Linked DNA regions of Homo sapiens. The main gene of each other region encodes a partner of the protein of the gene in region 3 in a complex. Each region holds a gene or a part of one and is shown on either strand. Other genes may lie near its edges. The genes, in order: SRRM2, RBM48, CWC27 and SNRNP200.

Region 1 (7,817 bases), on a different chromosome or scaffold from region 3:
AAAAGCGTCAAGCTTGGCAGTCATAATTCAATTGGATTTTCATAATTTACTTACTTTTTGTAGTGATGGGGTTTTGCTATGTTGCCTAGGCTGGTCTCGAACTCATGGGCTCAATCAAGTGATTCTCCAGCCTCAGCCTCCCAAGCAGCTGGGATCACGGGTGTGCCATTGTGCTAGGCTTTGAAATTCTGTAAATTTCACTTTGGGAGGCCAAGGCGGGTGGATCATGAGGTCAGGACACGGAGACCATCCTGGCTAACACAGTGAAACCCTGTCTCTACTAAAAAAACACAAAAAATTAGCAGGGCGTGGTGGCGGGTGCCTGTAGTCCCAGCTACTTGGGAGGCTGAGGCAGGAGAATGGCATGAACCTGGGAGGCGGAGCTTGCAGTGAGCCAAGATAGCACCACTGCACTCCAGCCTGGGTGACAGAGCGAGACTCCTTCCCAAAAAACAACAACAACAAAAAAGAAACTTTGTAAATTTATGACTGTAACCTCTTTCAAAGAGACTAGGAATCTTAAGAAAATAAAATGGTGCTTGGCCGGGCGCGATGGCTCACGCCTGTAATCCCAGCACTTTGGGCGGCTGAGGCGGGCGGATCACGACATCAGGAGATCGAGACCATCCTGGCTAACACGGCGAAACCCCCTCTCTACTAAAAATACAAAAAATTAGCCGGGCATGGTGGCGGGCGCCTGTAGTCCCAGCTACTCGGAAGGCTGAGGCAGGAGAATGGCATGAACCTGGGTGGCGGAGCTGGCAGTGAGCCGAGATCGCGCCACTGCACTCCAGCCTGGGCGAAGGAGCGAGACTCCGTCTCAAAAAAAAAAAAAAAAAGAAAGAAAATAAAATGAGTGCTTTTCTCTGTTTGTTTTTCAGAAATGGGAGGTGGTGGGGGGAGTCTCACTATGTTGCCCAGGGCTGGTCTTGAACTCCTGGGCCTCAAGCATCCCAAAGTGCTGGGATTACAGGTGTGAGCCACCACACCTGGCCCCAATTAGTGCTTTAAAAGCTCTCTAAACCCTTACATCACAAAGAATATCCCTCCTCCCCCTCCAGAAAAGAAAGGGGTGGCTGGACAGTATCGACCTCACCAGATGTGCTACACCAAGGCCAGAAAGAGCCGCTGAAGTGGCTTGGACATGGGCCATGCCAGCTGCACGTGGAAGGCCATTCCTCCCGGCACTCATTTCCAGTGTTTCATATCTGCTTGTCCTGGGTACAGGAACCAGGGCATGTTTCAGAGGTTCAGAGCCAAGTACTTTTGGGGTCTGGGTACTGCACAGAGAGGGCCCAGGCACTTGTTCTGCTTGCCGTGTGCCCCACCATGCCTGCGCTGAGGACCAGCCTCAGTCCATCCTGCCCAGAAGGCTGGGAGCACACATGGGGCCTGGAAGCCAGAAGGCCTCTCAAGAGACCCTGCTTGCAGCCCTGTGGGAGGGGTTGGATGGGGGCTGGGGTCTCCAGATAAAAAGGTAATTCGAGAAACCCTCCCAGGCAGCTGGGAGGTGGGAGGCTATGGCATTAACCCCAGGGATTGTCCTTCCTGAAGGTCTGGTCTCCCTCTGGAGGGCAGGATGCTTTTGCAGACATCATCCTCACCCCCCTACCCTGTTCCCATCCTCCCTAGCACCTGTCCTGGCTGGTAATTGTCTAGTTATTTGTAATGTAAGCTCCAGGAAGCCAGTGTGCAAATGGGAGGTGCTCCACTCACCAAAGGCTTCCCAGTCTTGGGCCCCAGGCCAGGGGGGTCTGGAGGAAGGCTTGCACCACAGGGTCCTCCACCAGGCCATGGAACTGGAAGCTGAAGGCCCACACAAGGCCACTGCCTGGGAGAACAAGCATAGGCAAGTGTGCCCGTCATGGACTGTCACAGAGCGGAGGGAAAAGAGGCCACGGGAAGGACCAGCCTTGGAAGGCCCAACAAAGGAGTTGTGATGTCAACCTGAGGGTGTCTGGAAGAGTTTTAAGCAGTTCAGAAGTTTGCATTTTAGGAACATCACTCCGAGGTGACAGCCGCTAGGATGTCAGCCATGGCTGTCTCTGGGGGTGGTGCCCCTGTGTGCTTTTTTTCTTTTTGCTGATTTGTATATTTCCTGCAGTGAATGTGGTTTACCTGTGCATGTCACTTTCCTAGGGCTGCCATAAGTCACCACGAACTTGGTGGCTTCAAACCACAGAAGTGGGTTCCCCTACAGCTCTGGAGGCCAGAAAGTGGAGACCAAGGTGTGGACAGGGTTGTGCCTCCTCCAAAGGCTCTGGGAGAGGATCTGCAGGGCCTCTCCCAGCTTCTGGCTCCTCCTGGAGATCCCTGGCATGGGCACCGCTCCGAATCTCTGCCTGGGTCTCCTACGGCCTCTTCCCCCGGGTGCCTGTGTCCTCTTGTCTTCTTGTAAGGATGTCAGTCATTGGATTTACGGCCTACCCTAAATTCATGATGATTTCATCTTCAGATCTTTAACTCAATTACATCTGCAAAATCTCTTATTCCAAATAAGGTCACCTTCCGAATGTCTAGGTGGTTGTGAAGTTTTGGGGCACCACCGTCCACCACACTACAGTGAATAAAAAAATAAAGTTTAAAGGGAAACTAAAAAATCATTCTAGGGCTGGGTGCCATGGCTCACACCTGTAATCCCAGCACTTTGGGAGGTTAAGGGGGGAGGACAGTTTGAGCCCAGGAGTTCAAGACCAGCCTGGGCAACACAGGGAGACACAATCTCTACAAAAAACTCCACCTCTACTAAAAATAAAAAAATGAGCTGGGTGGTGGCGTGCGCCTGTAATCCCAGCTACTTGGGAGGCTGAGGTACAAGAATTGTAGTGCGTGGAGATCGTGCCACTGCACTCCAGCCCGGGGTTAGGAGTGAGACTCTGTCCCAAAAAAATAAAATAGACAAAAGACACGAAGAGAAATTTCTCCAAAGATGTACAAACGGCCAACAAGCACATCAAAAGATTCTCAGCATCATCAGTCATTAGGGTACTGCAAACCATGTTTTGTCACTATTCACGGGCATTAAATGTGCTGACTCACGCACAAAACATTCCATAAAGAATATCAGTGGGGGTACAGGAAAGGGTCTCACTGGAGGTGCTGGGGTCTTTAACCAGAAAGGCAAAGCCTTTGCCACTTTACTATGCCACTCCAGAGTTGCGGCCGGCTTACAGAAGCACCGTCCATAGATGCAGAGTTCAGACACTCCAATCTGCGATCAGAGCTCCTGCAGGAGATGGGGGTGGTGGGGGGGAGGGTCTCCCGGCTCTAGCATCTGAGATAAGTACATCCTCCCACGGGCAAGTGAAAAACAAATCTTAAAGCCGGATACGGGCCGGGCGTGGTGGCTCACGCCTGTAATATCAGCACTTTGGGAGGCTGAGGTGGGCAGATCACCTGAGGTCAGGAAATCGAGACCAGCCTGACCAATATAGTGAAGCCCCGTCTTTACTAAAAATACAAAAATTAGCCAGGCGTGGTGGCACACGCCTGTAATCCCAGCTACTCGGAAGACTGAGACACGAGAATCACTTCAACCTGAGAGACAGGTTGCAGTGAGCCGACAACACACCATTGCACTCCAGCCTGGGTGACAAGTGCGAAACCACGTGAAAAAAGAAAGAACAACAACAACAACAAAAAACAAGGGCCAGATAGGGTGTCATGCACGGGTAGTCCCAGCTACTTGGGAGGCTGAGGTCGGAGGATCGCTTGAGCCCCAAATTCGAGAACAGCCTGGGCAAAACCCTGCCTCTTAAAAACACCCCCAAATCGTAATAACAAATATAAATCCTTGCACTCAAATGGACAGTTCATTACGTGGTACCGCGTCCTGTTGCGGATCAAGGCCACCTGAGTTGGTTAGGACAGCTAAGCGGGACGTCCAGGGCTGCTCGCCAGCGGTGGGTCTAGATATGAACTTGTGCTTGAGCAGCCCAGCGTCTTACAACTCTGCTGTGAGGACGGCTGGCTGATTATCAGGCCCAGAATCACGGGCTTAGAAACATTAACAGGAAGTACGGTACCGAAAAGTGGAAACTTTAAGGTGCTTATTATTTTCCTCCTGCCTTGTTCCTGTATGTGCCGCTTCACCGGTATCACGTCCTGGGTCTGGTGGGACCCCGGCCTGGCTGCCCTACCGGAAGCTAAGAAAACTCCTCCCCCAGGGGTGGCCGTCGGGCCTCAGCCCGGTCTACAGCGGGAGAACGTGGCCCATGCTACGGGTAACTGGTTGGGCCCCTGGTGCAGGTCTAGGGCCTGCAGCCAGGCTCGGGGCCTCCGGGGGTGCCCGCTGGCTGGGGTCTGAGGCGGCTTCTCTCGGGTACGGGAAGGCGGACTGCTGTGCAGCTGCGGGCTCGCTCGGGAAACCCAAAGTCACACGAAAGCGGCAGCACCACCGCGGCTGGGATATCGTCTCCCAACATGGGGAGACAAAATGGCCGCCACGCCCCGAGCCGAAATTACATCCGGGCTCCGCGACACGCCCGAACCACAACTCCCAGAATGCTCTGCATCGACAGCGGGAGACGAGACGCGCTCGGGCGTCGCTTTGCTGCCGCTAGGCCCTGTGCTCCTCCCCGCAGCGGAAGGCCTACGAATACGCGGTGTCTTACGTCGCTTCCTCCGTTCTTCGTTGCACTGGCCAACGGGACGCTTAGTCTTTCGGCAACGGGGTGAAACCTTCCTTGTGCCTGAAAAAACGGTACTTCGCGGTGTGGCTTCGGCGCCTGCGCAAAAGGCCGCGGGGCGCACTCCAGTTCCCGGCAGGCCCCGCGACGCGCGTTTGCGTGCTGACGCACGCAGTTAGTCGTGCTGACGTGCAGCGCGGCCCAGGCGGGGTGCGAGTGGCGCAGTTGGAGCCCGTTGCGGCCCCTGAGGAAGCGAGGAGGCGTCGGCGTCGGCTGAGGCGGGCGGACCGGCGAGGCGAGGCGGCGGCCCCAGGCCCGAGGGACTCGGGAGCTCGAGCAGCGGCGGCGGCAAGACCTCTCCCCCTCGGAGGCGGCGGGCGGAGGCGGCGGGTGAGAGGGTGAGGGAGCCAGCGAGCCGGGTGGGGGAGGGGCGGCGGCCCCGGCGCGAGGCCAAAGCGCGCGGAGAACTGCCCAGGCCGCCGAGCTCCTCCGCGCGCACGCGCGCTCGACGCCCTTCGCTGGCGCGGACGCCCTCGCCTCCCTTCCCCCTTCCCGCCGTTCCTGTCGCGCGCGGGCTTCACCCCCCCCCGCCCCTCCCCCATGACAACGGCGTTCGCAGCCGCCTGTACTCGGGTTCGCGAGCGCCCTTGGTGAGGGGGGAGGGCGCGCGCCTCGGCTTCACTCCTCCCCCCAACATGTGCCGCCGAGGTGGCCTTCCTGCAGCTGCCGTTTTCGGCCCTTAAGTGGCGGGGAAGGGGCGGCGGCGGGGGGCTTGCTCCTGGACCCTTGCCCCCGGTTCCAGATCTCCTTTCCTCGGGCTTCTCTTCGGCGTTGGGCTGCCCGTGTCGGGGGCCTCCCAGACTGCGGGACGCCGCGCAGCCCCCTCCCCCATTCCGCAAGGCCGAAAATAGGCCCCCGGCGCTGCGGGGAGGGCCTTGAACTTCGTGGGCCGGATTTAAATGGTTTAGGATTCCCGGCTATCAGCCTTTGAGTTGTTAGTGGCGGGGAGAAACCCCAAATCTTAAAAACTGTGAAGAAAGTGAACGTGTTCAGTTTACATTTGTAAGGTAGACCGTGCGTTCCCTTTTTACACTTTTTCAACGTCTCCCGAGAATTCGTGTTCAAACTAAGGAGGCTTTTGGAGACCTTCGTTGGGAAGAAAACGCCAGACTCATATATAAGTTTTCTGGTTGGTTTCAGGCGTTCTTTGGCACACAGCTCTTCTGAAGCTTGGTTTCCACTCGGCTTCAGTTAGGACGAATCTGGATCAGAATTTCAGAGTGTTGTGTTGTCTTTCATCCTAAGTGCGTGGGCTTAGGGCTCTTCTAAAGCTACTATTTTAGCTTTCTGGGTTCTTTGTGTCCACTCAGCCGCTCTGGAGCGCCCCGGTGCTGAGCTGGCTGTGCTTGCTGATGTCCATTTTTTTCGACAACCCTTGTCTCCCCTTTTTCTCCCCTTTTGGTACCGTTTTCTTTTTTGCATATTTTACTGTTGAATTCAAATATATCTTTCTACTTCATTGTTAGCTTACCACTCGGATAATTTCCCAACAGAAAAGGGTGTTTTTGTCTTCCTTTGTACTTTTTACTTTCTGCTTTTAACTTGGGTAACTTTTGCATATCCACTGTCTATGGCCCCCACTTTAAGAGTTTTGTAATATCGTTTGGTTTGGTGATTTGTGTGTGGTGTTGATCTTCCTACTTTCTGTGTCTTAACACACCCCTTAGATGCCGTGGGGTCGTCGTCTTTTTTTGTGGGGTGGACTAGGTGGCTCATTCCCTAAAAGTTCTCCGAAACATTGTGACCTAATATCCTTTGCTTAGCACCTACTGGTTTTTCTTTTTTTTTTTTTTCCGAGACGGAGTCTAGCTCTGTTGGCAGGCCGGAGTGCAGTGGCGCGATCTCGGCTCACTGCAACCTTCCGCCTCCCGGGTTCAAGCGATTCTCCTGCTTCAGCCTCTGGAGTTGCTGAGATTACAGGCAATCGCCGCCGCCCAGCTAATTTTTGTATTTTTGGTAGAGATGGAGTTTCACCGTGTTGGCCAGGCTGGTGTCAATCTCCTGATCTGGTGATCCGCCCACCTCGGCCTCCCAAAGTGCAGGTGTTACAGGCGTGAGCCACCGTACCCGGCCTGGTTTTCCTTTCTTAAGGAGTGGGGGGATTTTTGTGTGAGGTGGTATGGAAGTGTGGGTGAATGGTTAAGCTGAAGAATTAAGTGCAGGTCAAAAACATGCTGCAGGGGAAGCAGAAATTAAGTGGGGTAGGGGAGAGGCGAAGAAGGACCTAGTTTTAAACCGTGAGGAGGATTGGTACTAGAAGATGAAAATGAGGATTGGGGTGTAGAGAAATTGATTTTTTGAGCCATACAGTTTTTCATTTTTTCCTGGATTTCTGCTTGCCTTATCCAGGTTTAGCCTCTTCTGTCACCTTCTGCTTTCAATATTGGGTCTGCTACTGGGCTTGGGTAGGGACCCATCCTTAGGCGCATGCGCTAGTATATTTTTCCAAACATTTGTATGATGCTTCTTCATTCTGGAATTTTCTAAATGCATCCTTCCCTTCTATCCAGTTCTTTTACATCTTTGATTACTCTCTCCGCTTTACGTATTCCTTAGGGTTTTTTCTTAGTAGTATTTTCTCATATATGCATGTTCTAGGAAACTATCTTGGAGAGGATGAGGGTGAGAAAGAGAGTATATGTAATAGGAGAAAGGAATAGAGTATGTGTAGCCAAGGAATCTAACCAGGAAAGCTGGGACTTGAGAATTTTTCAGAATCACGTTAGGGTTGGGACAAGTTGAAAGGCTAGAACCTGGGAGGAGGCATGGGGTTAACACAGGAGAGAAGGAAGAGGCAGGGCTGAGAGAGAAAAACTAGGAAGTGCTATCCAGGGGATTGGTGGGGAAAGCCAACGGTTGGACATTAATGAAAGTGGGGTGTAGAGAGGGTTTCTACATAGATTTAGGGCAAGGTATATGGAGAAGGTATGGGAACGGTTGGAACAGAGGAGGCTGGTTTGATGTGTTTAAATAGAGCAGAGTTGAAAACAGGTAATATTTGACAGCTGGCAAGACAGGGAGGAACTGCAAATTGTTGTAAATCCTATTGAGAGGAAGGAAATTGAAGGAATAAAATATCAGGATAGTTGATAGGATCTTTAAATATTTGGAATCAAGGAAATGGCCCTT
Region 2 (7,022 bases), on a different chromosome or scaffold from region 3:
AGCGCTTATGACATTGCCTGGCATATGGTGAAATCTCAACAAGTATTTATCATTATCCCTGGATATAGAAGTAGTTAAATTTATTGTAGTACCTGGCCAGTCATAGATGTTTAGTAAGTATTTATTGACTGAATAACATTCTTCTCATTTTCTCATTGTTATATATTTAATAGTTCCTCAGTTATTGAATGTTTTATGATTATAGTATCTTTCATCTGATTTTTAAGGCATGAATCCCATCACAGAAATACATAGTGCTGAAAAAGCTTAATTGGGTATGAACCAACTCTTCAGGGCCACAGAGAAAAGCTCCATTTTATGACCACAGTTTACATACTTCAGGCCAACCAGCTGGGTCCTTAGTTGTTTAAAGACTAGGGAACAAAGAGGCTCAAAGGGAAGGAAAGGGGAGGCTCTACGAGTACATACTCGATCAATGGGATGAATACTGTCCACAAGCAGAGCATCTTAATTCCCAATCCACAGGATATATATACACGTAGCAAAAGCTGGACTTTGCTCTTTAGATCCAGATATTGCATACTAGTTAAGCTTTCATCCCAAGTAAATCTAGATTAAAAAACTATGCTATCTTGTATTTCCATTCAGGACAGCCAAGAGAAAAATGGATGAACAGAGTTTCTTCGGTGGATTGCTTCATGTGTGCTATGCTCCAGAATTTGAAACAGTTGAAGAAACTAGAAAAAAACTACAAATGCGGAAGGCATATGTAGTAAAAACTACTGAAAATAAAGGTATGGAAAGCATATTGCTAAATGCCTCCTGTGTGTCAGGCACTCTGCCAGGTGTGTCATCATGCAATTCCCAGTCTAGTGGTAGGAGAGGCAAGTAAACCATCACAGTATTCAGTAACTGTGAACCACAGGGTTCTCTGCAGCACACTACATAATCTGGGTTGAGAAGGGAGAAATATTGGTTCATAGAAGACTTCCTATAGTATGTGAGAAGTGGCTGAATTTTAAAGGATAAGTAGACGTTAACTAAATGGGAGAGGAAAAGATGGAAAGGCAAGCCAGGCAAGATGTTTAAATGTTTAGAGGAATAAATGAGCATCATGCATTTAAGGAACTTTAATTAATACAGTATAACCAAAGCCCAAAGGTTTCAGTGAGAGATAAGTTTAGAAAAGTGGGTAAGAAGTGAATCATGGAGGGCCTTGTGTCCCATGCTAAGGAATTAAGGCTTTGACCAGAATGCAGTGAGAAGCAGTTATGATTTGCAGTTGTCAAATCATATAGTTGTCACTGCTAATCATGGAGAAGTTCTACTTTTGACCAGCAATTGGCTAAATGCCCCCACATGCCTGTTCTACCACATAGTGATGGAGAGAAATAAAGTGGGAAAACTCTTGGAAAACTTACTCAGAAATCTGGTAAGAGAGCTGTTGAGAATCCCCAGTCATCTGCAGACATTGAACTCTAACTTGTAAGATAAGTAAATAAATAGCACCAGGAAAACTTGTATGTTTGTGTGGCAAAGGAAATTATAAAATATTAATGTGGAGAAAGACCTTTGACATTATCTGACCTGGGTCCTAATTTTTCTGGGTGAGGAAACTAAGTCTCAGAAAGTTTGTGACCTGCCTATATTATTAGAGATGAATTAAAGACAAAATAAGGGTTAAAACCCAAGCTTTGGACTCTGTCCAGAGTTTACTTTTTAACTGCTTTAATCATCTCAGTGTTGGTGACAGCCTAGGATTATCTTCATTATTTGCTCCCCTTCCTCTTAAGACCTTTTTGCTGTGCTGCTGACCTCAGAATTAAACTATGACTTGTTTGGCCTTGGACACTTTAGTTAAGCTCTCTTTCATCTGCAGCATTCTAGCCTCTACAAGATGCATTTGTATACGTGGTCTTACTTTTCAAAAACTCTTATTATGGAAATTTCAAAACACACAGGCAGAGAGACTAAGTTAACATAACTCCCATGTATTAATATTAACATTAACAATCATCAACACATAGCCAATTTCATCTTTACCACATCTTCCATACTCCATTCCTGTTGTAATCTGCTTTTGGGAGAGTAAACCAGGGAAGAGGCCCTTGCCAGCCCTAGAAGTGCGACAAGCATATTGCTTTCTTTAGTGACTAACAAACACAAGCCAAGGAGCATGATACATCCAGATAGTGGAATACTCTGAAATTGTAAAAAAAAAAAAAAAAAAAAAACCTTTCTATATAATGATGAAAAACCTCTGTAAGATCTACAGTGAAATGGAAAATGCAGAGGTGCAGAGAAATGCGTATTACAGGTTATCTTAAAGTGGGGAGAAAATGGGAGGAAGGAGGTGGCAAAGTGAGACATATTGAACAGATAAATAAAAAACAATAGTGATTACTTATGGGGATGAAACCAGACCCATGGAGAGCAAGGAAAGGGTGACACTTGATGCTATATATCTTTTTATCCGTTTTAGGTTTTAAACCATGTGAATATATACCCTTCTCAAGAAATGATTTTTTTGGAGTAGAATTTGTTAACATTTTTAAGTGATTTTTTTAAATTATATGATTCTGAATGATGAAAACAATAAACCACTTCTGTTTCCCTTTCCCTCAACTTTTAAATTGTAATATAAAGACCATTACGTGACAAAGAAGAAATTGGTTACAGAGCATAAAGACACAGAGGATTTTAGACAAGACTTCCACTCAGAGATGTCTGGATTTTGTAAAGCTGCTTTGAACACTTCTGCAGGGAACTCAAATCCTTATCTTCCGTATTCCTGTGAATTGCCTTTATGTTATTTCTCCTCAAAATGTATGTGTTCATCCGGGGGACCTGTAGACAGAGCACCAGACTCCTCTAAGGATGGTAGAAACCATCATAAAACAATGGGGCATTATAACCACAATGACTCTTTGCGGAAAACACAGATAAACTCTTTGAAAAACTCAGTGGCCTGCCCTGGTGCACAAAAGGCTATTACGTCTTCAGAGGCAGTTGACAGATTTATGCCTAGGACAACACAACTGCAGGAGCGCAAAAGAAGAAGAGAAGATGATCGTAAACTTGGAACTTTTCTTCAAACAAACCCAACTGGTAATGAGATTATGATTGGACCTCTGTTACCAGACATCTCTAAAGTGGATATGCACGATGACTCATTGAATACAACGGCGAATTTAATTCGGCATAAACTTAAAGAGGTAAGGTTATTTTTAAAAAACTATTCTAAGACACGATTTGGTTATAGGATTAAATGGAGAATTATTTGTGGGAACAATAGTACTGTAATTTTTTTTCACTTTTTAGTGTTTTGATGTGTTTTTCTACAGTTCTCTGTTGAAATAACTGAATTTGGCTAACATTTTATTTGCTTTAAACTGTTAATACTTGCTTTAAACAATGAACAGACATTTTATATCACTGTAGATACAAAATATTAAAGCAGTGGTTTCAGCCAATTAAATCAATCTGTGAGAGTGGAGCCCAGGCCTGCCATTTTTGTTAAAAGCTCCCCAGGTAGTTCTAATATGAGCCAAAGTTGAGAAGCAAAAGTATTGTAAATTATTTCTCTCAAATTTAGAGTTATTACAGTTTATATCAAATTCAAAATGCTTAATTTGCTTTTGTGATAAAGAGCAATAGAAGGTGGTGAGATTTCTAAAAATTAGGCCTCCAGGTATGCATTTCAAATGTAGACTTCTTAAATGATCGGGATCAGATTGTGCTGCCTAGGTAGTCTGTTTTTTTTTTTAATGTCATTTACATAATCATTTTCCATTTCCTAAGCACAAATGAAGTTAACATCTGAGTTAGCTTTTGAAAGACACCTTTTTGTGGGGTAGGGACTACTGTTACAAATCATAAACTGAGGGTTATGACATTCTCTTATACTTACTCCAAGATGCAGAAACTGCTTTTCACATAGTTTTACTCATATTTTACAATGTGATTAAGGGAGGCTAAGGTAGTTTAATTTCATATATGTACATTTTTTACCTAAAAATATCTGATTAAAGGTATTATTTAATAATAATTAAAATCCGTGGGCACAGTTTTGAAGCCTTCTTTAGCTTTTCAGTTTAGGCTGGGCCCAGTGCCTCACACCAATAACTTCAGCACTTTGGGAGGCTGAGGTGAGCAGATTGCTTGAGCCCAGGAGTCTGAGACCAGCCTGACCAATGTGATGAAACCCCATCTTTACCATAAATATACAAAAATTAGCCAGGCGTGGTGGTGAACTCTTGTAGCTACTTGGGAAGCTTAGGTGGAAGGGTACTTGAGTCTGGGAGGCGGAGGTTGCAGTGAGCCAAGATCATGCCACTGCACTCCAGCCTGGGTGACAGTGTGAGACCCTGTCTCAAAAAAAAAGGTTTTCAGTTTGTGCTGCCACCCTTACTTCCTTCCTTCAGTTACAGCTGAACTGAGGCATAGACATAGATACATACCTGTCTCAACCAGAGCTGATTACATTTTCAAGATAAACGTGTGAAGTCCAAATTCTAGGTCCAGAAATAGAACAACAAAAAAAAGATATTAAATACAGTTTACTATAGTTTCTAATAATTTTCCATTTCAAATGAAGACTCTTACTTTGCTTTGACTTATTGTATACTCTTTGTACACTCTTTTTCTGATGGTGTGTTTGCTTTTCCTTTTTCTCCAGGAAATTGAGGATTATACTGCTTCCTGCTCATTTCTCCAAAGGTTTTCATCCCCCCAAATCTATCAAACGTTATCAGTGTTTCAAGAATGCAAAACCAGGATATCTATCTGAATCCGTAATATAACAAGTGTCTTTAGATCTATAAAGGAATGTTAAAGTAGAGCATATGTTCACTTTTCTTCCTCCAAATTTTTTTTCTTTTTAAATAGCTTTAGAAATTTTACTGTCATCAGTATTCAAATGGAAGACTCCACTCTGTGCCTAGGTCATAGGCTGTACCTTGAACTTAGGCGAACTCTGCCTCGAAAGTGACATCAAGGATTGAACTATTGGATGTAGTCTTACCTCTTCTAATAGCTTATTTACTCCTGTGCTATAGAAACTAAGTTTTAATGGTTCTTTTTTTTTTTTAATTAGGTAATTTCATCTGTGCCAAAGCCTCCAGAGGACAAGCCAGAAGATGTACATACAAGTCATCCATTAAAACAAAGAAGAAGAATATAGAGTGCCAGCAGCAACTTAGTATTTTCTAAAAAGAACATTTATTATTTATTTTTAGCCTGTCATTTTAATTCTTCAAGAGATTTTACTGCTGGTATTTTTTAATGCACTCCTCTTTGTAATTTCATTCAAGCCATTTGTCTAAAGTCATTTCTTTGTTTTTTGGGAGATGGAGTCTTGCTCTGTTGCCCAGGCTGGAATGCAGTGGCGTGATCTCGGCTCACTGCAACCTCCACCTCCCGGGTTCAAGCGATTCTCCTGCCTCAGCCTCCTGAGTATCTGGGATTACAGGCGTGCACCACCATGCCTGGCTAAGTTTTGTGTTTTTTTTAGTAGAGATGGGTTTTCACCATATTGGTCAGGCTGGTCTCGAACTCCTGACCTTGTGATACACCTGCCTCAGCCTCCCAAAGGGATGAGCCACCGCGCCTGGCCCATTTCTTCTTTTTTTGACCCATACTTAATGTTGCAGAAACTATTCTTGTCATAACATTATCTCTCATGTACAGTAATTATATGTAAATTAATTGAAGCAAATATGGAAACTTTACAATAGAAATAAAGATAGGCAGCCAGCGTCTGTTTCCAATTATAATACAAGTATTGAATGAACCATTGAAACACTAGAAGTCAGGATGTTTCCGAATGCCAGGGTTTCAAAATCAAGACAATTCTATGAAGTAAAAAGTAGATTAGCTATTAGAACAAAGCTGAAATTAGAACCTTATATGCTTTAAATAACTTTTAAGAATTTGCTTGACCTGTGGCAATCCAAAAATACATCAGTATTTATAAATTCTAGACTTCTGTTACTACTTCTGGCATATCCACACTTTTTTCTGTCAGTGGATTACATAATTGGAAATTTCAGTACATCTAGACTGTCTCTATTTTCTTTTTCTTTTTTTATTTTTAGTAGAGACAGGGTCTCACTGTGTTGCCCAGGCAGGTATTGAACTCCTGGGCTCAAGTGATTCACCCACCTCGGCCTCCCAAAGTACTAGGATTATGGGTGTGACCCACTGTGCCTGGCCATTTTCTTTACTGATAAAAATAACTTGAGAAGGTCCATACCGTGGTGTGTTGTTTTCATTTCTCCCTATCTTTAATGGCCTCTTGCCTAGTGGATTGAATTTGAACATACCAGTTAATAAGGTTCAATTTCAGCTATGATGTACTTGTAGCAGGACGAGCTGCAGACAAAACCCCGCAGACACCAGGTTATAGAAAGAAGAGGCTTTATTCGGCCAGGAGCGTCGGCAGACTTGTGTCTCAAGAACCGTGCTCCCTGAAGAAAAAGTTCCTGGTCCTTTTAAGGGCTTACAACTGTAAGAGGGTCTGCGTGAAAGGGTTGTGATAGACGGAGCAAGTGATCTATAGGCAACACATGGTTAGAGTTGGGGGGTTAATCTTTAACCTCAGGCCTGGTCAGTGGCGTCGGTTGGTTTTGCCACTGGCTCCATTCCTGTTGTTTTTCAGCTTTTACTCCCTCCTCCTCTTCAGAGATGGGAGACAGGAAGAGAAATGGCCTCTCTCCTCACACTGATCCAAATTAACTAGGATGGCTCCAAGTGGTAGATGGTACTAACAGCAAGCTGCAGATAAGGAGGGTAGGCCCTACTTCCATGTGAGGTAATTAGATACAGTTTTTGCTGAAATCTCAGGTAAAGGATATATTAGAGACCTAAGCATAGAATTGGAAGGAGCAAATTGCTGTCTGGTTCAGGCTTCTCAGACTATAAGTTGCTATGATCTCCACCTCAGGATCTTGTTAAAATGCAGATTCTGGTGGTGGTGGTGGCCAGGGGCTGTGGGGAGGGAAAATGAGGAGTTACGGTTTAATGGGCATAGAATTTCAGTTTTGGAAGATGAAAAGAGTTCT
Region 3 (7,022 bases):
TAGCTTCTAAGTTATAGGGGTCATAAAAATTAACTAGTTTCATAGTATGCAAATTATTATGAGAATTTAGTGCTTCAAGTTGGTAATTCAACAGACTTCTTTTAAATGATATATCATTTTTTGAAAGAAAAGGTGTTTCTAAAATACTATTTTCAGTCAATAGAAGAGTAAGATTCTTACTTATAAAACTTTAGTTTGTATTAAACTTTTCAGGAATACATCTTTTGCTAACCATATTATATCATTGCTAGGTTTTATGTAAATTTGTTAACTTGTTATTTAGGAATACTGTTTATTTCCCCCCTCATGATTATATTGTACATTCTTTGCAGAGCATGAAGGGCAAAAGCAAAAGTAGTCATGACTTGCTTAAGGATGATCCACATCTCAGTTCTGTTCCAGTTGTAGAAAGGTTAGTCCATTGTTGGTATGATCCTAAGTTCTTAATTTTCTGGCTCAGATAATTTTCTTGCTTCTTCTGTGAGTAAACAGTCAGTCCTCATAAGTCAAAAATTTTTAAGCCAGCCAAAAAAATAAAGCATTTTGATAACAGAGATAGAGAACTTCAAGCTTGATAGAGAGAAACAAACGCTCTAGTCACTTTCGCACTTGCTCTCTACCTCTGTTGAATGAATTACATTTAAAATTGTTTTACCATTACATGTTAGGACTAGAAACTGTTTGCTTTAACAGTGTAATGCTTAATTCAAGGTTGTTTTGCTACCTTTTCCTTGAAGCATTTTTGCCTTAATTGTATCATGAATGAACAAATTACAGTTAAAGGTTTTTGTGAAGAAGTTACCAGTTTGGGGGCCAGTCCACTGACTATAAATTCTCACATACTTTGAGGAGTTAACAGAAAGTTGTCTTGCTACCTTTGTTGCTTCTCTTTGAGAAGGGAAAACGTCTTGGTGTTAGATGTAATAGCACAAGATAAACTGGGCCAGTATCTCAAGGGGCACTACAATGCTGTTGTACTCAGTTTAGCTCATTTTCGAAACTCCTGTTTTAAGACAATCTTTTCTTAATACCCTTCTATTTGAAGGATTTGGGGGTTTTTTTAGTCAGAATATTTCAAGCCAATAAAAGAAATTGTTTTTTGCAGACCATTGATCATAAAAATAACACTGTCGGTTGTTGTTTGCTTTTTTCCTTTCAAATTCTAGTGAACGCATATATTTGCTAATGAATCATACTTATTCCACTTATAAAAAATGACTCTAAAGAATGTTTCCATCTGTTCTATAATGCCTTTCTTAAATTCCTATGTTGAAATACATTTTTGGAATGTTATTCCCAGCAAACTATTCTAGATTTTTGGGTTACAAAATAATTGTGTTAGTTTTACCTTGAAACTAAAATTTGTTTTGCTTATTTTTTTTATAGTGAAAAAGGTGATGCACCAGATTTAGTTGATGTAAGTATTTATTTTGGTATTAATATAGTTTGAACAATTCATAGAAAGTACAAAATTTTTACAAAAACTTAATTTTGTTCTTAAAAAGTAACGTATATTACTTTTATAGTTATATATGTCAAATTTTGGAAAAATATGAAAAACAGAAATTATTTAGGTGTTAGACTATTTCCTTACTCTAGGGGTGTGCGTGTGTGTGTGTGTATATCTCTCTACAACATTAGAATCTTATATATGAATTTCTAGTCTGTTTTTTTCTCCCCCTCACATAACATTACGTTAATACTCAAACTTCAGATGTTATAAATTTATTGTATTAAAAGTTTAAATATTGGTGTGTGGGCATCCTACATGATATATGGGAAATGCTTGGATCAGTAATTTATAGTAGTGTCTCCTTTTTATATACACATTTCAAAAGATTCTCATTCAAGAGTGTAGTGATCTTTATTAGTTGTAGTGGCTAACAAAGCTAACAAAACAGAAGGAAGATTTTCCTTTAATACATAAGAGTCAAGTTTTTCAAATTATACATATGCCACTTTTTATATAAAAACCCATTAATCTGTGCATTGTATAATTTACTAGGAAGTACATAACTTTCCATGCATGAACACAGATTTATCTATTATCACAGTCAAAAGAGAAGGCTCTCTATGGCTATCAGTAGTAGATAGAGAGAGGATGAATATCTGACCTTGTCAAGAAAAGCTTCCTGGAAGAGATGATGCTATTTATGTCTTATATGAGAGTTAGGAGTTAGCTAAGTCAGAAAAGAAAGTGATGAAGGGGGTGAGGTCCCTCTAGCTCAGAGAATAGCATATGCTAAAGCATGGAAATAAGGAGAGATCATACCTTATTTAGGAAATACAAACGGAAATTTAAAGTTTCAAGGAGTCTGTCTTGTGAAGAGCAAGGAAGAAGAGTATTGAAGGTAAGGGGAACTGCATATACAAAATGGTCCGAAGCAGGAGAGTTTGGTGTGTTCTAAGAGCTGCAAGCAGGCCAGCGTGAACAGGGTGTGGTGACAGGCCAGAGCTTCATTACAGAGCTTCATAGGCCATGGTGAGGGGTTTGAGTTTTTTCCTAAAAGGAAGTGAGGAACAGTTGAAAGGTGTTTGTTAAAAAGAAGGATGCTATGATCAATTTTGCATTTCAGGAAGATCACTATTGGCGATATTATAGAGGACAAATTAGAGGAAACAGACTGATACTGGGAAGCTATTGTAGGAGGAGAGCTTGATATAAGACCACAGCTGTGAGATGGGAAAGAGGTAGATTTGAAAGAGGTCTAGGAGGTGACTGATTCTACACTATGAGGTGAGGGAGGAGTAGTCCAAGACAACCACAAGGTTTCTGGTTTGAGCAACTTGTTAGATGGGTGCAAAAGAAAGCATAGGGTTGAGGTGGAGAAAAGGATGAAAAATAATGAGCTTAATTTTATACATTTCAAGATTGAGGTAATTTGGAGACATCTGTGTAACATAATATGGGTCTAGAAGTTAGGATCAATGTATAGGATAGAAAGTAAAAGTATAGATTTGCTCTTAATATCATGGGTGAGTGACTAAAACTGTGAATCCTTTCCCAGGAAAATGTACTACATTCACAACCAAAATTATATGAATTTGCAGGGAATTTTTTTTAGATCTCCTGAGGCCTGAGCATGGAAGGCCTAGGTTGGTGGTTGTCACCTTTTAGTGCTTAAGAATTACTTAAACATCTTGTTGAAAACATTCGTAATTCCTACCCCAGAGATTTTGGTTCAATAAGTCTGCAATGAGGGCTAGAATTTTAGGTGTTAATAAACAACTATGTAATACCATCTAAGGACCAGACTTTGAGGACCAGTGCTTTAGGGGTCCACAAGTCTCAAATTAAGAATCCTGCTTCACTACGACTCACCAGATCAAAGAAAGAATCACAAAAGAAAAATGATCCACTTGGGGTTATTTCTTCCTTCTTCTCTCCCCTCTTTCTTCCCTTTGTTCCTCCATCTGTCAATGCTGGGCACTATTCTAGGAGTTGAAGATACAGCAGTAAGCAAAACAGGCCAGAATTTTAGCTCTCATGGAGTGTTTGCTGTAATTGGATGACAGACAATACACATGCAAATAATTAAAATATATGGTGTATCAGATAGGTGATAAGTACTTTGGAAAATAAGCCAGGGAAGATGAAAGAGTACTGGAGGTAAGTGTGTGGTTCTACCATTTTAATAGGTTAATCTCATCACCAAGAGGGTAACATTTGAGCAAAGATCTGAAGGAGATGAAAGAGCAAGCAATGAAGAGATATCTGGAATAGAGTATTTGTTTCAGGCTGGAGAGAACAACAACTCCAAAGTTGGCTAGTGTTGGTGGGCTGGAGTTGTAGGAGATTATGTCAGGGAGGTTTAGATTGCATAGGGCCTTGAGTGAGTTGGGGACCCACTAGAGGGTTTTCACAAGAGAAGTGATTGCTGTGACTTGGATTATAGAAATCTCAGCTTCTGCACTACACCTCTTCTACTTGAATTGATCCCTGTTGAGGTCAGTATGCTGGCCAACTGCCTTCAAAAGCCACATTTCCCACTGAGATAAGAATAGGAATATAGACAGAATAGCCCGAGTGACACAGAGGGAGAAGTCTGCTGCACAAAGGAGCTGGGCATGAGTTGAGCGAACAGCCTTTCCTGGGGTATCCCATAATTACATAGTTGGCTTAGAGCAGAACCCAGGGCTATTCCCACCTGTAGCAGATTCTTCAAGGGCTTATAATTCAAAACAAAAGAAAACAAAATAAAAAAAAAAACCTAGTTTAGAATGCAATAAGGAGATTCAGTGGATGCAATAGATCTCTAGAAATGAAAGGGGAAATTGAGCACCTGGCAAATACTCATTTTCCATTTCTACAGGATGGAGAAGATGAAAGTGCAGAGCATGATGAATATATTGATGGTGATGAAAAGAACCTGATGAGAGAAAGAATTGCCAAAAAATTAAAAAAGGACACAAGTGCGAATGTTAAATCAGCTGGAGAAGGAGAAGTGGAGAAGAAATCAGTCAGCCGCAGGTGAGTCAGTTACTGTGCTAGATATCAGAGTTTTTGTCTTTTTATATTTCACTTTAATTCAGATTGAATCCTCTCTTCAGCTAATTTTTAAAATACTATTTTCATAATGTTTGATAAACATAACAGTTGTACAAATTGGCCCATTAGCAGGCCTAAAATAAAATACACCAAGCTTAAAGTAAACATAACAATGATCCTATGAGTTCAATTCCATTTTATTTCTCTCTGATCCTTTTTTAGAAAGGCTCTATACTTTCATATATATAGGGTAATAATGTATTAGCTAGATGTGGAAGAATGCATTTGTTAAATACCAATGAGAGCAGTAGAGTAATTGTATAGAAAGAAAAGAGACATCCTCAAATAATTTCGGTAAGCAAAATTTGTCAAAACTGATGAAGAAAATGAGTGAGCCTGAAAACATTCTTAAATATCTTTTCAAGTCTGATTTACCAAATACCATATACCTATCCTAAGCTCAGTAGTATCATAAAATAAATTTCAGCAAATGGTGAAAAGTTTACTGTCTGGTGATGAAAGTTTGTTGGATTTATGACTCAACATTTTATTCTCCTGAAATTCAACTTAATTGAAAAATTATCTCTTTTGTGATTCTATTTCAACTTTATAGTATACATTTTAAATAATATTGCTTTAAAAAACAATAGTATTTGTTTTCTTCAAATACTATTTGGGGATAATATGAATGTAACTACATTTAAATAACATTCTTTTTCCCTATCATGTTTCTCAACCACATGTAGAAAAACTTAAAAAGGATTTCCACGCTATCATTGCATAGCTCCCTCAATTTTTTCTTTATGTAATCAAATAAAAATGATTCCCAGAAATTTCCACTAAAAGCATAGCTTTTAACATTTAGAAATGGTACTTAGGAGTCATCTTAAATGTCTTTTTTCCAGCAATATTCACCTGACACTCAAGTAATCACTGTTGAATAATTTTACATACTAGATTATATTATATATACCATACATAGTAGCTAATATAGACTAAAGATTTTAGTGATCATATGCATGCTTCTAGATTCATAGAGTTGAAAAACCTCTCATTCACACTGTAACTTTTAGTTAAATCATGAATATAATTATGGATACATAATGTTTTATTCCTCTCATTCAAGGCATGTGTTTTCTGATTTTAAAAAATTATGAATTTTTTTAAAGGTTAGGTTTATAATGTAACAAAAATATATTTAAAAATTTTAATAGATGAGCCAACCAAATATTTATTTATGTTAGATTTAAGTGTTCCTTAAACTCCCAACTCAGTCTTGTAGGCTTTAATCAATTTCAAATACTTATATACCCTATAATATAAACTATAATTTAGCAATGCTAAATTTTGTATAAGAACTAAAGTTCATTTTTAATGTACCTTTCATAAGTGTCTTTAAAAAATTGTTTACCTAATATTAAGAAAAGTCAAAGTTTGCATTTTCCAAAATTGTGTTCACTCTTACAATTAAGGGTTATTCTTAAAAGATTTCCTTGGCTGTAGTATGGGCCTGATGACCAAACATGGCATTGATAGCTAGATTTAGGAATCTGATCTATCATGAGAATACTGGAGAGCCACTGAAGTTTTTACAGGCAAATGATATATTGAGATTGTATTTAGTATGGAGAATGGATTGATAGAGGAGTGTTTTGGGCTATTATACAAAATACCATAGACTGGATGACTTAACAGACATTTAAAGCTTAGTTTTTATGGTAATTTCTTACATAGGAACATATATATCCACTTACTTATGTAAACAATTTTTCTCTTTTTATAAATCAGTATAATTTGCAAAATTAAAATCACATAATTTGTATATTCACTGTAGAGGAAAAAGTTATATTCAAGTGCATTGCAAGTCTACTAAGAAAATTAAATAAATTTAAAAAGTACGTTAAATACTTTTCTACTTAGAAAAGTAAATTAAATAAGAAGTCTCCAAAGGTGGCTTGAATATTTTAGGTAAACATGAGTATTGTGGACATTGTTGGATTCTTTTAGGTAAAATAATTGGCAAAGTGTGCCTTTGTAAATGGTGCAGACAGCACACATTTATTTATAACTGTTCTGTTCCCCCACATTTTCATTATTCACATTCTCTACTCTCCCTCCTTCATCCTATCTGTCCTACCTACAAAGAGAAACAAAAGAAAAATAAGGTCAGGATAGAGGAGAAAGTACAGAATTTCAAAAGGAAGAAACAGTTTTTTCCTCTAGTGTAGAAATTTCCATGATTGTCTCATGACCACGTATTTTTTTCAGTTCATAAAGTTGCCAAAATCAGACCCTGGCATGGTGGCTCATGCCTGTAATCCCAGCTGCTCAGCAGGCTGAGGTGGGAGGATTGCTTGAGCCTAGGAGCTCTAGGCTGCAGTGAGCTATGATCCTGTATGGGCAACAGAGCAAGACCCTGTCTCTAAAAAAATAAAAATAAATTTTAATAAATTTCCAAATCATTAGTACTTTTGGTTATTTATACCAGCGAGTCTCTGAAGTTAACTTTATGGTTAAAAAATAAAACAACACA
Region 4 (7,446 bases), on a different chromosome or scaffold from region 3:
AAGCTGGGGGTCCTCAAATTCAATTCCGTTCCAACACTAACTACCTGGAGATAGCGTCAGATCCCACAGACTGAGGACTCAGTCGCACAAGCCTGCCTCCCACTTCATGATGCCAGTCACAAGCACAGGTTGTTTGACCTGTGCTTCTCACTATACAGCTATAAATCGAGGTTTCCACAATCCCCTTTTGGGGTTCAACTAATTTTCTAGAGCAGATCAGGGAAACACTTATTTTTACTATAAGGCATATTACAAAAGATGCCTACCAAAAGACAACAGATGGAAGAGGTACACAGGGCAGGCATGTGGGAATGGGTGTGGCGCTACCAGGCCCTCTCAGGCGCACCACCCTCCAGAAACCTCCATGTGTGCAGCTATCCACAAACTCTCTAAACCTAGTCCTTTTGGGGTTTTTATGGAGGCTTCATTATGTAGGCATGATTGATTAAATGACCAGCCTCCATTCTGAACTACCTAAGTGCTGCCAGCCATCAGTCAACTCATCAGCATACAAAAAGATACTTAGCACTTCGAAGATTCCAAGGATCTTAGAAGCTGTATGCCAGAAAATGAAATAAAGACCTAATATATATTTCACAATATCACACTCACCTGGTCCCCAAGAGCAGCCTGGATGAAGCTGAGTAGCACCTCATAGGTCTCCCGAGTCTCTTTAGTTTTGGGCTTGTAGATGATGCCCACCATCTCATCAATGCCCTCCGACAGCAGAGTATAACCCTTCATCTTGTTGATGTCATGCCGGTCCTCATCACGCTTTCTTCGCCTAATGGACATGCAATGTGATATTGAATGGCAGAACCTTTCGTCCCCAAGGGAAGACTGGATCAAGCCCACCCTCCTCTCCTCAGCTTCATGGCAAGAAGTTAATATCTGAAAACAGGTATCTGAGCCTCAGCAAATGATTCCGTTTGGCCTTAATCACTTGCAGGAGTATTTCTTTATGGGACACAGTGACAAAAAGAAAAATTCCCTATCATCTTCTCACTAGATGCACTAAACATTACAATGAGATGTTTCTCATTTAAAAAATACAACCCTTTGGCCAGGTGCAGTGGTTCACGCCTGTAATCCCAACATTTTGGGAGGCCAAGGCAGGCGGATCACCTGAGGTCAGGAGTTCAAGACCAACCTGGCCAACATGGAGAAACCCTGTATCTACTAAATATACAAAAATTAGCCGGGCACAGTGGCGAGCGCCTGTAATCCCAGCTACTCAGGAGGCTGAGGCAGGAGAATCGCTTGAACCCGGGAGGTGGAGGTTGCCGTGAGAGAGATCACGCCACTGCACTCCAGCCTGGGTGACAGAGTGAGATTCCGTCTCAAAAAAAAAAAAAAAAAAAGTACAACCCTTCATACATTGTATGAGACTATTATATAATAGGATTTTGACTAGTTTTTCACCTCTCCAATGCATTTTCCCTTTCTAGCTAGAGAACCAAGCTCTAACAGAATCTACTGCCGTTGACTATCAACAAAGTATAACAAAACTGGAAAAGAAGATATAGCACAAAGTGGAGATAATGTATTAACTCATTTCAAACATAACTACTTTAATCAAACTAAGCCTAGGAATTTTGGAAACTTCATCATAGGAAAGGGAGCAAGACACCAAGATATTCAGGATCAAAAGATAATGATGAGGTAAAGGTAAGTTTTTGAAACATATCCCCAAGAAATCTTAAAAAAAAAAAATAAAGGAAAAAAATGCAAACTAAGAAAGAAACCTGTCTTTCATACTATGGATGCTTAAATTAGTTTGTTACAACAAAATAGGTAGAACGTGGACAAGAGTAAATGGAAAAAGTAGGGGTAGGAAGTTAGTAATGGGAAAAAAGGAAAACGAATTACTGGGACATAGGAATAGCAAGGGTCTTGAAAATACCCTGAAGAAAATTAAGATCTGTCTATGGACCAGAAACACACATGTAAGAAAAAGGTACCAACAAGTTATTTTCCACTTGAGATGCACTTGTTAAGGCCAAAAAATCTTTAAACTCTCCTGGTCTGTTTTTACCTTCACTGAATTGTTTTAATGCCACTGATCTTACACCAAGCATTCCAGCAAAAATGCTGCTCGAATGTTAAAGGGAAGAGACTTTGGATCTGAAGGAAAAAATAGTATCCCCTTGGCACTCACTTGGCTCTTCTTTCCTCCTGCATCTGCGGTTTGGTCCGTTGAGCCTTGTCTCCCATACGGGTGCCCTCCAGCTTCCCAACAAGGGACAGCACCTCTCCTGTGGGTTCATCCCGGCGGGTCCGGTCAATGAGAGAACGGTCAGCTTGGAGCACAAGATTCGAGTTCTGAAAAGATCAAAACATTATTGAAGCTTTGACATGAGCAGGGCCAATTCCTACTATCATAGTTACCCCAGCTGATGGAAAAAATCGTAGTAACTAGTTGCTTATCATCACTAATCGTAATAAAAATATATTTTCCTTAAGAATTGCATAGTATAACGCTGTGCAGAAGCGTACAGCTGAATAAGTCTTATGCGCTGTCGAATCAGCTAAACAATTCTTGTTCCTAACAGCGCCCATCATAACCCACACCTGTGAAAAGTAGTGAGTGGGTTGGGAGTGACGTGTGGAAGGGGGAGGGCTTAGCGTTGAAGGTACTCGAGAAACTCCTCCTAGAGAGATCTTAGCGCTCCCCAGACCCCAGTAGGTTATTCACGTCATCGTATAACCCCCACCTTCACCCCGATTCCATTTCCCCTTCGTTTTCGTGGCTCTCCTGTAGGCCTTCAGACTGAAACTCCCTTTTTCAGCCTCCCCCTCCCCATTGGACTCCTGAGCCTGGAATCCTTCCCCAAGACCAAACGCACCGCCTTGTACTCGTATTGCAGACTACGGGCGGTTACATCCGCCATGGCCGCGGCTGCTCGGAGGCTTCAGACCACCACGCCTCCCTACCGCAAGCTGCAAACGGCCGCAGATCTCTGCTCCCGCCGCGCCGGAACGACGCAGGAAAGACGCACTGGGGAAGGAAAAGAAACGGGTTCCCTTCCGCTTCCGGGTCGCGCCCCAGAAGTGCGGGGCGGGGCGTGTCTGGGGCGTGTCCCTGCCGTGTGCGCGCGGCTTTCCGCACCCTTCTGAGCGGGATATGTGGGCCTGGTGCGTCTGGGTCCCCGAATCCCTAGACCCCCGCACTCTGGTTCTGGCCGCCCGCTGGCACTAAGGACCCAGGGCCCGTGCTCTCCCCGACCTCAGTCTCCAGCCCCCGGCACCCCTCACATCATAACGAATGCACGGCTGCTTAGCCCCTGTCCTGTCCCAAGACCTTTCCTTCCGGTTCCTTCCTCTTTGGCAACAGTCCCATGAGGTAGGCAGGAAAAGAGGGGCCGAAAACCCCATTTCCGTTTGAGGTAACTAAAGTACCCAGCGAGCAAGGTGACTTGCGCGTGTGTCTGTGTTTGTGTGTTTTAATGATTGGCGCCTTGCTTTGGGTTTCTCTTCTGTGTTCAACAATTGAAAAAGAAAGCTACTATCCCCCACCAATCCCACCTAAACCTGTGCCCCCAAGACCCTCGTTTTCACCCAGCTGAACGAACAGGGCCGGGGCCCCCATTTGCTCCCACTTGTCGGTAACATTCTATGGTAGGGCCCTCCCTGCCGCCCAGGGAAACCGGTGAAGGCAGGGCCAAATCCTTGGTGACTATGACTTAATTTCTTCCCCAGCTACAAAGTCTTCTCTGTCCCACATTCCCCACCACTTCTCGCCAGTAGAATGGCGCCTTATGGCTGAAGGTGACCTCCCTCCTCACTTAGAGCATGTTTGCTTTTGAGAAGATGAATGAACAGGAGGATGGGTGTTAAGCCAAAGGAATTCATCCTCAATAGCAGTCCCCTAGACCAGATTTGTTCTGTAGTGGTATCGTGTTTGGCTCACTGTTGGCTCCTTCTTTAAAAATTGGGATAATTTCATGCAAACTCTGGCTCTCCCCCATCAGTTGAGATACTAGAAAATCAGCCACATGACACCCACACTGCTGCATGGCATGACCTGCTGCTGGTCAGCAGCTGCCAAGGTCAGAGAATAGGCAAGTCCTTCCCACTGCTCCTGTTTTCTCATGCCTGCCCATCTCCTTATTTTTACTTGCCCAGCCCCTGTAGGCATGGAGTTTGCTGCTTTGGTGGGTGTTTGTTTTTTTTTTAATAACTCGTCTTCCCAAGGGACAGTCGAGTCCTCATGGCTCTGCTCCTCAGTGGCTGTGTGACTTTGAAGTAGCTAGCTACCTGGCCTCTCGGTGAGCACCATTTTCCTCATCCTTAAAATTGAGGCAATTGGCTGGACACGCTGGCTCACGCCTGTAATCCCAGCACTCTGGGAGGCCAAGGCAGGCGGATCACTTGAGGTCAGGAGTTTGAGACCAGCCTGGCCCACATGGTGAAACCCTGTCACTACTAAAAATACAAAAATTAGCCAGGCGTGGTAGTGGGTGCCTGTAATCCCAGCTACTCAGGAGGCTGAGGCAGGAGAATCACTTGAACCTGGGAGGTGGAGGTTGCAGTGAGCCGAGATCAAACTCTGCACTCCAGCCTGGATGACAGAGTGAGACTCTTTGTCTTAAAAAAAAAAAAATTGAGGCAATAAAACCTTCCTCCCATTGTGATTAAATGGGATAGTGTGTTTAAAAGCACCTAGCAAAGTGCCTGACTCAAGGTGGGGTTCACTGAAAGTTATTGAAATCTGAATCCTTAAGGCTGACTTTTATTCCATGATCAGGCTGTGGCCCACCCACCTGACACGAAAGGGTCTCAAAGGTATTTCGGAGATTCCACTCTGTTTCTGTAGAAGTAGCATTCATGTTCACAGATGCAGCTGGGCTGTGGGCAAACCTGTGAAGCAAGAAAAAAAGGAAACTTTCCCCATCTTTTCTTTTCCTCTCTAATCAGGCTCTACCAAATGTAAATCCTGCATTTAGTCATTCAGATGGACTTATAAGTTTCCATAGTATGTTAGACCTGGTAGGAGCCTTAGAGATGGAGTAGTCTGGTTCCCTTATTTTCCACAAGAGGAGACTGCAGCCCTGGAACAATCGTCACACTAAAATGTAAATAAGGAAGAAAATAATTATGATTTTGAAAAGAAAACAACAGGCTGGGTGTGGTGGCTCATGCCTATAACCCCAACACTTTAGGAGGCTGAGGAAAGAAGATTGCTTGAGGCCAGGAGTTTGAGACCAGCTTGGGTAACATAGTGAGGCCCTGTTTCTACAAAAAATTAAAAAGTAGCCAGGCCTGGTAGTGTGTGCCTGTAGTCCCAACAACTTGGAAGGCTGAGGCAGGAGGATTGCTTGAGCCCAGGACTTCAAGGCTGCAGTGAGCTAGGATTGTGCCACTGCACTCCAGGCTGACCCACATAGCAAGACTCTTCCCTCAAAAAATAAAAACAATTTTTAAATTAAAGATAGAAAAGAAAAATGACAGCCGTGCTTCCTCACTCTGCGGAAGGGGCTCAGGGAAACTTCCTGGGCCAACTTGTTGAAAATGGGGGAAGGTGTCTAGTGAAGACAAGTCAAAGGAGTCACTGCCCCACATGAGAAAGGAAAGAGGAGCTGGGGTTAGACTGGGATGTAGAAAAGGGAAGAGAAAAGTCTTCAGGAAGCAAGAGAGGCCCAGGAAAATGACAGTCAGCCAGGACCTAAAGGAGCCACAAGCAAAGAGAAATTTATTTTACTTTTTTTTTTTTTTTTTTGAGATGGGGGATCTCACTGTGTTGCTCAGGCTGGAGTGCAGTGGCACGATCATGGCTTACTGCAGCCTCAATCTCTTCAGGCTCAGGTGATCCTTCTACTTCAGCCTCCCAAGTAGCTGGGACTACAGGCACACACCACACCCAGCTAATTTTTTGTATTGTTAGTAGAGATGGGGTTTTGGCATGTTGCCCAGGCTGCTCTCGAACTCCTGGGGTCAAGCGATCCACCCACCTCAGCCTCTCAAAGTGTTGGGATTACAGGCTGAGCCACCTTTCCTGGTCTGGGCAAAGAATTTGAACAGACGTTTCTCCAGAGAAAATATACACTGGCCAATAAGCACATGAAAAAATGCTCAACAGCCATGCGTGGTGGTTCACCCCTGTAACCCTAGCACTTAGGGAGGCCGCGGCGGGTGGATCACGAGGTCAGGAGTTTGAGACCAGCCTGGCCAACATGATGAAACCCTGTCCCTACTAAAAATACAAACATTAGCTGGGCGTGGTGGCGTGAGCCTGTAGTCCTAGCCACTCGGGAGGCTGAGGCAGGAGAATCACTTAAACCCAGGAGGCGGAGGTTGCAGTGAGCTGAGAGCATGCCATTGCACTCCAGCCTGGGCAAAAAGAGTGAACCTCCATCTCAAACTAAATAAATAAATAAAAATAAAAATTAGCTGGGCATGGTGGCACATGCCTGTAATCCCGGCCACTCGGGAGGCTGAAGCAGGAGAATTGCTTGAACCTGGGAGGCAGAGGTTGCGGTGAGCCAAGATCGTGCCATTACACTCCAGCCTGAGTGACAGTGCGAGACTCCTCAAAAAAAAAAGAAAGTTAAACATAGAGTTACCCTATGACCCAGCGATTCTACTCCTAGGAATCTACCCAACAGAACTGAAAACATGTCTACATAAACATTTGTACACAAATGTCCATAGCAGCACTACTCACAATAGCCAAAATATTGCAACAACCCAAATGTTCATCAGCTGATGATGGATAAGCAGAATGTGCTATTTCTATACAATACAATATATTATTCAACCACAAAAAGCAATGAAGTACTGCTGTGTGCCACAACATGAATGAATCTCAAAAACATATTAAGGCCAGGGACAGTGGCTCATGCCTGTAATCCCAACCCTTTGGGAGGCTGAGATGGGCAGATCACTTGAGGTCAGGAGTTCAAGACCAGCCTGGCCAACATGGTGAAATCCTGTCTCTATTTTTTATTTTTTTATTTTTGAGATGGAGTCTTGCTGTTGCCCAGGCTGGAGTGCAGTGGCACAATCTTGCCTCACTGCAACCTCCACCTCCTGGGTTCAAGCGATTCTCCTGCCTCAGTCTCCTCATTAGCTGGGATTGTAGGTGCGCGCCACCACGCCCAGCTAATTTTTGTATTTTTAGTAGAGACGGGGTTTCGCCATGTTGGCCAGGCTGGTCTTGAACTCCTGACCTCAGGTGATCCACCCGCCTCGGCCTTCCAAAGTGCTGGGATCACAGGCGTGAGCCACCAAGCCCAGCCCCCTGTCTCTATTAAAATACAAAAATTAGCCAGGTGTGGTGGTGCACGCCTGTAGTCCCAACTACTTGGGAGGCTGAGGCAGGAGAATTACTTGAACCTGGGAGGTAAAGGTTGCAGTGAGCCGGGATCCTGCCACTGCACTCAAGCCTGGGCGACAGAGTGAGACTCTGTCTCAAAAAATATATATTAAATTAAGGCCTGGTGCAGT

The links.
Region 1: CWC27 (region 3) and SRRM2 share a complex: the UniProt entries of both Homo sapiens proteins name them as parts of the minor spliceosome.
Region 2: CWC27 (region 3) and RBM48 share a complex: the UniProt entries of both Homo sapiens proteins name them as parts of the minor spliceosome.
Region 4: CWC27 (region 3) and SNRNP200 share a complex: the UniProt entries of both Homo sapiens proteins name them as parts of the minor spliceosome.

Annotation. Positions count from the first base shown.
Region 1 is NC_000016.10:2,747,829-2,755,645, forward strand, and holds the start of SRRM2 (serine/arginine repetitive matrix protein 2), read left to right. Parts: upstream 1-4,809; 5' UTR 4,810-5,018; intron 5,019-5,077; exon of another isoform or gene 5,078-5,228; coding exon of another isoform or gene 5,229-5,278; intron 5,279-7,817. UniProt on the Homo sapiens protein: Required for pre-mRNA splicing as component of the spliceosome. As a component of the minor spliceosome, involved in the splicing of U12-type introns in pre-mRNAs.
Region 2 is NC_000007.14:92,531,795-92,538,816, forward strand, and holds part of RBM48 (RNA-binding protein 48), read left to right. Parts: intron 1-609; coding exon 610-755; intron 756-2,443; exon of another isoform or gene 2,444-2,607; coding exon 2,608-3,176; coding exon of another isoform or gene 3,177-3,290; exon of another isoform or gene 3,291-4,633; intron 4,634-4,639; coding exon of another isoform or gene 4,640-4,750; exon of another isoform or gene 4,751-5,056; coding exon 5,057-5,143; 3' UTR 5,144-7,022. UniProt on the Homo sapiens protein: As a component of the minor spliceosome, involved in the splicing of U12-type introns in pre-mRNAs.
Region 3 is NC_000005.10:64,799,916-64,806,937, forward strand, and holds part of CWC27 (spliceosome-associated protein CWC27 homolog), read left to right. Parts: intron 1-332; coding exon 333-412; intron 413-1,386; coding exon 1,387-1,417; intron 1,418-4,313; coding exon 4,314-4,471; intron 4,472-7,022. UniProt on the Homo sapiens protein: As part of the spliceosome, plays a role in pre-mRNA splicing. Probable inactive PPIase with no peptidyl-prolyl cis-trans isomerase activity. As a component of the minor spliceosome, involved in the splicing of U12-type introns in pre-mRNAs.
Region 4 is NC_000002.12:96,302,547-96,309,992, forward strand, and holds the start of SNRNP200 (U5 small nuclear ribonucleoprotein 200 kDa helicase), read right to left. Parts: upstream 3,001-7,446; 5' UTR 2,892-3,000; coding exon 2,847-2,891; intron 2,323-2,846; coding exon 2,159-2,322; intron 785-2,158; coding exon 613-784; intron 1-612. UniProt on the Homo sapiens protein: Catalyzes the ATP-dependent unwinding of U4/U6 RNA duplices, an essential step in the assembly of a catalytically active spliceosome. Plays a role in pre-mRNA splicing as a core component of precatalytic, catalytic and postcatalytic spliceosomal complexes.